Regions from separate parts of the Homo sapiens genome. Here all the other regions are linked to region 1. The links come from fine-mapping of genetic effects on gene expression. A gene starts in region 1. Each other region holds a variant in brackets. All regions are shown on one strand. Distances are from middle to middle.

The links. PIP is the estimated chance that this variant, and not a neighbour inherited with it, causes the effect.
Region 2: its variant is fine-mapped to the expression of FDX1 in whole blood (INTERVAL, PIP 0.93).
Region 3: its variant is fine-mapped to the expression of FDX1 in lung (TOPMed, PIP 0.91).

What each region holds. Positions count from the first base shown.
Region 1 is chr11:110,428,399-110,431,161 of GRCh38, forward strand. It overlaps FDX1 (ferredoxin 1), which reads left to right and starts at 1,550. Exons shown (of 4, transcript NM_004109.5): 1 at 1,550-1,907. The coding sequence starts at 1,723. RefSeq lists a silencer at 1,364-2,013 and an enhancer at 2,084-2,363.
Region 2 is chr11:110,397,505-110,400,267 of GRCh38, forward strand. All of the region lies in intron 3 of LINC02732 (long intergenic non-protein coding RNA 2732), which reads left to right. Among named protein-coding and RNA genes, the nearest start is that of FDX1, 31 kb to the right of the region's middle. The variant G/T (reference allele first, on the strand shown) is at 1,376.
Region 3 is chr11:110,367,874-110,370,636 of GRCh38, forward strand. The region is part of intron 2 of LINC02732 (long intergenic non-protein coding RNA 2732); the gene reads left to right. Among named protein-coding and RNA genes, the nearest start is that of LINC02732, 14 kb to the left of the region's middle. The variant C/T (reference allele first, on the strand shown) is at 1,222.

The sequences.
Region 1 (2,763 bases):
CCCTTGATATGTTCAAGACCCTGTAGCTGGTGCTGTCGGAGTCACTAAGATGAACTATATAAATAACTACTCTATGTGTACGAATAACTACCCTACAAAGCAGAAAGCTATCAAGTGCCTTAAGGGAGTTGAAACTGTATTTGCTACAGGAGGGCTGAGAGAAGACAGAACATCTACGATTTTTTTTCTTTTCAATTCTCTTCCTACAACTAATTCATCCGACCTTGGAAGTTTGGTCTTACTAAAAACAAAAGTTAGCTGTTCTTTTACAACCTCCTCTTCAAGATTACTTGTCAGGGTTTGCTGTGCCCTTCGCAGCTTGAAAGACTTTCTCTTCATCCAACGATTTGAGGCAATTAGGAGCCACTGCCTTCTCTCTGCCATTGGGTTCCAGAAAGCACCATACATTGTCCGCAGATACTTTACTCATGCTTACACTTTCTTGTTCTGAATCTTCAAAAATTAGTGGCGTGTGGTGGCACACGCCTGTAGTCCTAGCTACTCGGGAGGCTGAGGCAGGAGAATCACTTGAACCTGGGAGGCGGAGGTTGCAGTGAGCCGAGATTTCGCCACTGCACTACAGCCTGGGCAGAATAGAGAGACCCCATGTCAAAAAAAGAAAAAAAAAGTATCTGATTGTGTTTAGCATATCTGCAATATCCCCTTGACTTTGGCCTTTAGCCTCTTTATGAGTACCCTGATGGAGGAAGGCCCAGGAAGCGGTAGCCTTCCTGGTTTGTGACGCACGGTGTGCATTGCGTATTAGATTAACATCAGAATGGCCCTGAAGGCTGGAACATCTTATCTGTGTTTGAGAGTTATGGAAACTCTGATCCTCCATGAGAATAATTTTTCCAAGGTCTCAGATCTCTAAAGCAGTAGATCTTGGATCTGAACATTGCTATTTCTGACCTTAAAGCCCATGCATTTCCCACAACATATGAACCATGATAAGGTGTATTTTAAAGTTCATCTTTTCTGTTTTTTGTGAAAGTCTTTTAGAGATCTCAGCTCATCACAAAGTTTCCGGTTCAGTCTCGTGGGTTTCATGTACTCAGCCAGCATTTACTTGCCAGTCAAGGTCTAGGATGGCTACCTGTCCTCTGCAGGAGCCCCAAGCCTATTCATTAATTTCATTTACAATTTTATAGTCATAATTATTTCTTTGTATAATAGCATTCTGAGATTTTCCAAAATTTCCCACTGTTTTTGTTTTACAGTGGGCAGAATTCACTTTGCTCTAACTTGACTCCAAGATGACACAATTTCCCAGTTTTTTTTTTAACGGCTAGGGGATGGGGGTATGCGGAACAGAACACAGTGGTCTAGCTAACCGATTTCCGCTAGACGTCCAGCTATCTTTCAAAATATTTTGTTTCTGCACGGCAACTTCAGCCGCTAAAAAAGCATCCAGCTTACAACGGAACCTGGAGGGTTGGTAAAGGCCCCCTGCGCTGGCCCCGCCCCATGGGACCGGGCGGCGTGGGCGTGAGAGGCGGGGCGGGGCCGCGCTCTGCTTGCCAATGTCTTTATAGGTCACCCGGAAGGCACGCGGAACCTCGGCGCGGTGCTTCCAGCAGGGTCTCTCCGCCACTCCAGCCCCGCGCCCCTCGCCGCGGCCCTCGGGCGTCTGCGCCGCAGCTGCCGCCCCCGCCTCTTTGGAGTCTCTCGCGGCCTCAAAGCGCGGCCTGCGTCGCTTCCGGCAGTTCCCGACCGCGGGCGATGGCTGCCGCTGGGGGCGCCCGGCTGCTGCGCGCCGCTTCTGCTGTCCTCGGCGGCCCGGCCGGCCGGTGGCTGCACCACGCTGGGTCCCGCGCTGGATCCAGCGGCCTGCTGAGGAACCGGGGGCCGGGCGGGAGCGCGGAGGCGAGCCGGTCGCTGAGCGTGTCGGCGCGGGCCCGGAGCAGGTAGGGCGCCGTGCGGGCGCGATCGCCGGCGCGGGCCGGGGTCCCCGGTGGGTGGCGCCTGGCTCTCTGGGCCGAGTCTCTGGTTCCAGTGCCTTCTGCGCGCCGGGCCCACACCCCGGAGGCCTGCCTCTCGCCCCCCTCTTCTGGGGTGCTCTCGCGGCTCCGTCTCGCTGCTCGGTGGCGTCGCTGCCTCCCTTCCGTCGCACCGCAGAGTTCCTTTCCGCATCACCCACTCCCGGCGGGAATCGGGGACCCTGGACGCCCAGCTCCCTTTCCCAGCGCTTCCCGTGCCCTGAGGAAAGCCGGGACTTTGCTGCTGCTTGTTCTCCGTGTGATTTGTCTGGGATCTGACCTTTGCTCTGCCCGAAACTGGCAGTGACCTTCGCGACAGGCTTCCCTCCTGCTGTCCTGGCCTGACACACCTGCCAGCTGTTTTTTTCAGGGCCTTGCCCTGCTTTGAGAGGACACCCAGGTCCCAGGTCTTTGTCAGGGGGTGTCCAGGTAGAATACACCCAGCCCATACCCTCTGCTGCCCTGTAGGCCCTTTGCTAGTTGCTCAAGTGTTGAAAGCCCCTGCGTTGAAGTAATCTGCCGGGACTTGAAACTTGGCTTTGGCACTGATTGTCTGACGTGCCTAACTTGGTCAGTCCTTAGGAACCCAGTTTCTCCATTTGCAAGTTGGATATAATAACAGTGTAGACCTCCTATGGTTAATTGAAGAATCAATGAGTTAATACAGCGATACAGGTAGTCTTGTGCCTAGCACGTAATGAGGGCTCAGTAGATGCCACTTGGTAGCAGCAGCAGCAGCAGCAGCAGCAGCAGCAGCAGCTTCTTAGGTTCACAATGTTAAGAG
Region 2 (2,763 bases), 31 kb before region 1:
CCAACATCAAATTAATGTAACTGTAGACCAACTTTTGGGGGTTGGCGGCTGGGCTGGTTTAGATGCGCAACTGGTCATGCAGGATGATGCCATAGAACAGCTTAGAGGAGTGTGCATTAGAGCTTGGGAAAAAATCACTATAGGTGGAGAACATTACCCTTCCTTTAGTGCTATAAAACGGACCAAGAGAACCATATGTTGATTTTATAGCTCAGTTACAGGAGTCTCTTAAAAAGATGATTGCAGATTCGGCTGCTCAGGTTATAGTGTTGCAGTTATTAGCTTTTGACAATGCTAATGCCGATTGCCAGGCTGCTCTGCAACCTGTCAGAGGGAAAGCACATTTAGTTGATTACATCAAGGCCTGTGATGGTATCAGAGGTAATCTGCATAAAGCTACTTTGTTGGCACAGGAAATGGCAGGACTGAGAGTGGATAAAGGAAATACTCCATTTCCTGGAGCTTGTTTTAACTATGGGAAGCATGGTCATACTAAAAAAGAATGTAGAAAAAAATCAGTGAGTCAGGCAGCCAGATGGGGAAAAAGGAAAACTGCTGATCCTGAAATATGTCCAAAATGTAAAAAAGGGAAATATTGGGCTAATCAGTGTCACTCTAAGTTTGACAAAGATGGGACCCTGATTTCGGGAAATGCCATGAGGGGTCCGTCCTGGGCCCTGTTCTAAACCGGGGCATTTCCGGCTCAGGCCATTCCCTTACCCCTGTACAATGTCTGTCCCCTGCCACAGCCGGTAGTGCCACAGTAGATTTATGCTGCACAAAAGCTGTGAGCCTTCTACCTGGGGAACCCCTGCAAAAGGTCCCAACAGGAGTCTGTGGACACTTGCCAGCGGGGACAATAGGATTACTTTTAGGAAGGTCTAGTTTAGGTTTAAAAGGGGTACAAATACATACAGGAGTCATTGATTCAGATTACAATGGGGAAATTCAAATTATTATATCTACTTCTGTTCCCTGGAAAGCAGAGCCAGGAGAGTGCATAGCACAGCTCCTGATTGTGCCATATATGAGAATGGGAAAAAATGAAACTAAATGAACAGGAGGATTTGGAAGCACAAATAAACAAGGCAAAGCAGCTTATTGGGTAAATCAAATTACTGATAAATGTCCTACCTGTGAAATAACTATTCAAGGAAAGAAATTTAAAGGTTTGACAGATACAGGAGCAGACATGTCAATCATTTCTCTACAGCACTGGCCGTCCGCGTGGCCAATTCAACCTGCTCAATTTAACATATTTGGAGTTGATAAAGCTGCTGAAGTATATTAAAGTAGTTATATTTTGCATTGTGAAGGGCCCAATGGACAATCTGGGACTATTCAACCAATTATAACTTCTGTACCTATAAATTTT[G/T]GGGGAATAAATTTATTACAACAATGGGGAGCACAAGTTCTAATTCCAGAACAATTATATAGCCCTCAAAGTCAACATATGATGCATGAAATGGGGCATGTCCCTGGTATGGGACTAGAAAAAAATTTGCAAGTTTTGAAAAAACCACTTCAAATGGAAAGACCAAGTTCCTGCCAAAGATTAGGAAATAATTTTTGATGGCAGCCATTGTTAAGCCTCCAGAACCTATACTTTTAAAATGGTTAGCCAATAAGCCAATTTGGTTAGAACAATGGCCGCTAAGTAAAGAGAAACTGGAGGCTTTAGAGACATTTGTTAATGAACAATTAGAAAATGGGCACATAATTCCAACATTTTCTCCTTGGAATTCTCCAGTTTTCATAATTAAGAAAAAATCAGGTAAATGGAGAATGCTAACTGACTTAAGAGCCATCAATTCAGTTATACAACCTATGGGAGCATTACAGCCAGGATTGCCTTCTTCTGGTATAATTCCAAAAAATTGGTCTTTAATAGTCATAGATTTAAAAGACTGTTTCTTTACTATCCCTTTAGCTGAGCAAGACTGTGAATGGTTTACATTTACAATTCCTGCAGTAAACAACCTGCAGCCTGCTAAGCATTTTCATCGTTTCACAGATGTGTCTAGTAATGGTAAAGCTTCTTATTCTGGATCAAAAGGTAAAGTTTTCCAGACGCCCGATACTTCAGCTCAAAAAGCAGAGCTTGTGGTGGTAATTAAGATATTGACTGCTTTTGATATGCCTATTAATGTGATTTCTCATTCTTCATACGTGGTTTATTCCACACAGTTAATTGAAAATGCTTAGTTATGATTTCATACAGATGAACAACTAATGACTTTATTTACCCAATTGCAAACAGCGGTTAGAAGTAGAATGCACCCTTCCCCTTCAAGCTGTAGGGGGATAGATGTTCCGTCTGAACATCAGAAGGAACAAACTCCAGACACACCATCTTTAAGAACTGTAACACTCACCACGAGGGTCCAAGGCTTCATTCTTGAAGTCAGCAAGACCAAGAACCCACCAGAAGGAACCAATTCCAGACACATTTTGGCAACCATGAAGGGACTATCGCCAAGCAGTAAGCAGCATTGGGCCTCTTTCACTTGCTATTCTGTCCTATTTTTCCTTAGAATTTGGGGGCTAAATACCAGGCACCTGTCAGCCAGTTAAAAGCGACTAGCGTGGTTGCCGGACTAAAGACATGGGTGTCAGGCTTTCTGGGAAAGGGCTCTCTAACAATCCCCAATGCTTCAGAGTTGGGAGCATTGGTTTGCCTGGAACCAGCTTCTGCTTTTCCTGTACTTCTGGGTTGAGCCGAGGGTCAACAGAGAGGAAAGCCATTCAGCTCTGGGATCCTGA
Region 3 (2,763 bases), 61 kb before region 1:
AACAGGTTGCTTTTATCCTTCGTTTGAAAAATTATTCATTTGAATCAATAATTACTATATTATTCATGAATAATATTAATAGTGAATATTCATGTATTTATTATATAAGTAATATATTCACTAGCATAAAATTTTTAAGTGACAAAATTATATACAGTGAAGAGTAGGTCCCTGTATTACTTCATTTGTGTTGCTATACAAGAATACCTAAGGCTGGGTAATTTATAAAGAACAGAGGTTTATTTGGTTCATGGTTCTCAGGCTGTACATGAAGCATAGTGCTGGCATCTGCTTCTCGTGAGGCCTCAGGAAGCTTCCACTCATGAAAGAAGGCAAAGAGGGAGCTGGTATGTTACATGGCAAGAGAGAGAGCAGGAGAGAGAGATAGAGAGAGGAGGTGCCAATCTCCTTTAAACAACCAGCTCTCATGTGAATGAACAGAGCGTGAACGGAGCAAGAACTTCCTCATTACCATGAGGATGGCAAGGGGGATCTGCCCCCATGACCCAAACACCTCCCACCAGGTCCCACCTCCAACAGTGGGGAGTTCTCTCTCTCTCTCTCTGTCTCTGTCTCTCTCTCTCTCTCTTTCTTTCTTTCAACAGAGTCTCACTCTGTTGCCCAGGCTGAGTGCAGTGGCGTGATCTGGGCTCACTGCAACCTCAGCTTCCTGGGTTCAAGTGATTCTCCTGCCTCAGTCTCCCTAGTAGCTGGGATTACAGGCACCCGTAGTTCGCCTAGCTGATTTTTGTATTTTTAGTAGAAACAGAGTTTTACCATGTTGGTCAGGCTGGTCTCAAACTCCTGACCTTGTGATCCGCCCGCCTCGGCCTCCCAAAGTGCTGGGATTACAAACGTGAGCCACCGTGCCCGGCCCTGGGGAGCATATTCAACATGAGGTTTGGAGAGGGCAAACATCCAAACTACATCAATTCCCTATCTATCTCTGCCCTCTTAACCATAATTCCCCTCCACAAAGTCGATTGCTACAGGCAGTTTCTTGTGTATTTTTTCAGATAGTCTGTATATACATAAGACTCAATGTTTGTGAATGTGTATGTGTATATTGATACATGCATTAAAATACTCACAGGTGGTAGTATATGGACCCATTAGTCTCCACTTTGTTTCTGTTTGTGTATTTTGTCTTGTTTTATTTTCAGTATCCAGAGATCACGTCAGCATATATTGGGGATGGCTTTAAAACAAATGCGGGCTGGG[C/T]GCGGTGGCTTATGTCTGTAATCCCAGCACTTTGGGAGGCCAAGGCAGGTGGATCACTTGAGGTCAGGAGTTTGAGACCACCCTGACCTACATGGTGAAACCCCTTCTCTACTAAAAATACAAAAACTAGCTGGGCATGGTGGCTTGCGCCTGTAGTCCCAGCTACTTGGGAGGCTAAGGCAGGAGAATGGCTTGAACCCAGGAGGCAGAGGTTGCAGTGAGCCGAGATTGTGCCATTGCACTCCAGCCTGGGCAACAGAGCAATGCCTTGTCTCAAAAAAAAAAAAAAAAAATTAAAATAGGCTGGGTACGGTGGCTCACACCTGTAATTCCAGCACTTTCGGAGGCTGAGGCGGGTGGATGAATTGAGGTCAGGAGTTCGAGACCAGCCTGACCAACATGGTGAAACCCTGTCTCTACTAAAAATACAAATATTACCCAGGTGTGGTGGCACGTGCCTATAATCCCAGCTACTCGGGAGGCTGAGGCAGGAGATTTGCTTGAATTCTGGAGGCGGAGGTTGCAGTGAGCTGAGATCACATCTCTGCACTGGGCGACAGAGTGAGACTCCATCTCAAAAACACCCCACAAAAACTGTATTTCATTCAAACATAATCTGTTTTAGAGTCTCCAATTCATAGATATTTAAGTCATCTCTGTTTTTGCTATTTCTTATTCAATGATGGAAATCTTTGTACATAAATTGTTGTACATAAATCTTTGTACATAAATCTTTGCATATGTGTCAAAAATATGTATAGAGTATGATCCTAGGAAGGAAATTGTTGAAGCCTTTGATTTCTTATCCAACTCTAACCCTTCCTATTTCCCTCTCTTCATTTTTCCAATACAGTTATATAAATTGCTTACTTGTCCAGGCGCAGTGGCTCATGCCTGTAATCCCAGCACTTTGGGAGGCCGAGGTGGGCGGATCACGAGGTCAGGAGATCAAGACCATCCTGGCTAACGTGGTGAAACCCTGTCTCTACTAAAAATACAAAAATTAGCTGGGCATGGTGGCATGCACCTGTAGTCCCAGCCACCCAGGGGACTGAGGCAGGAGAATTGCTTGAACCCAGGAGGCGGAGGTTGCAGTGAGCCGAGATTGTGCCACTGCACTCCAGCCTGGGCAACAGAGTGAGACTCCATCTCAAAAAAAAAAAAAAAAACAACTTAGTTAAGCCAAAAGTCAGTGTTTACATTTTTGTCACTATTAAATATTATTCACCACTGAACCAAATAGGATCTTGTCATCATATCTTCTTTCTTGTATAACCTTCTGCTTTTTCTGACATTAGTAATTGCTAATCCCCTTCATCACTGGCCAAATTGCTTAGTTTTCTACATACAATTACTATTTTTTTCTGTTCAAAGGATACTGGAGATTTGGCAAACTTTTGGTAATCCTTTTCCTCCAAATTCCCAAACACATTAAATAATTATTAAAGGTTGGGCATGGTGGCTTATGCCTGTAATCCCAGCACATTGGGAGGCCAAGGCAAGAGGACTGCATGAAGCCAGGAGTTCTAGAGCAGCGTGGGC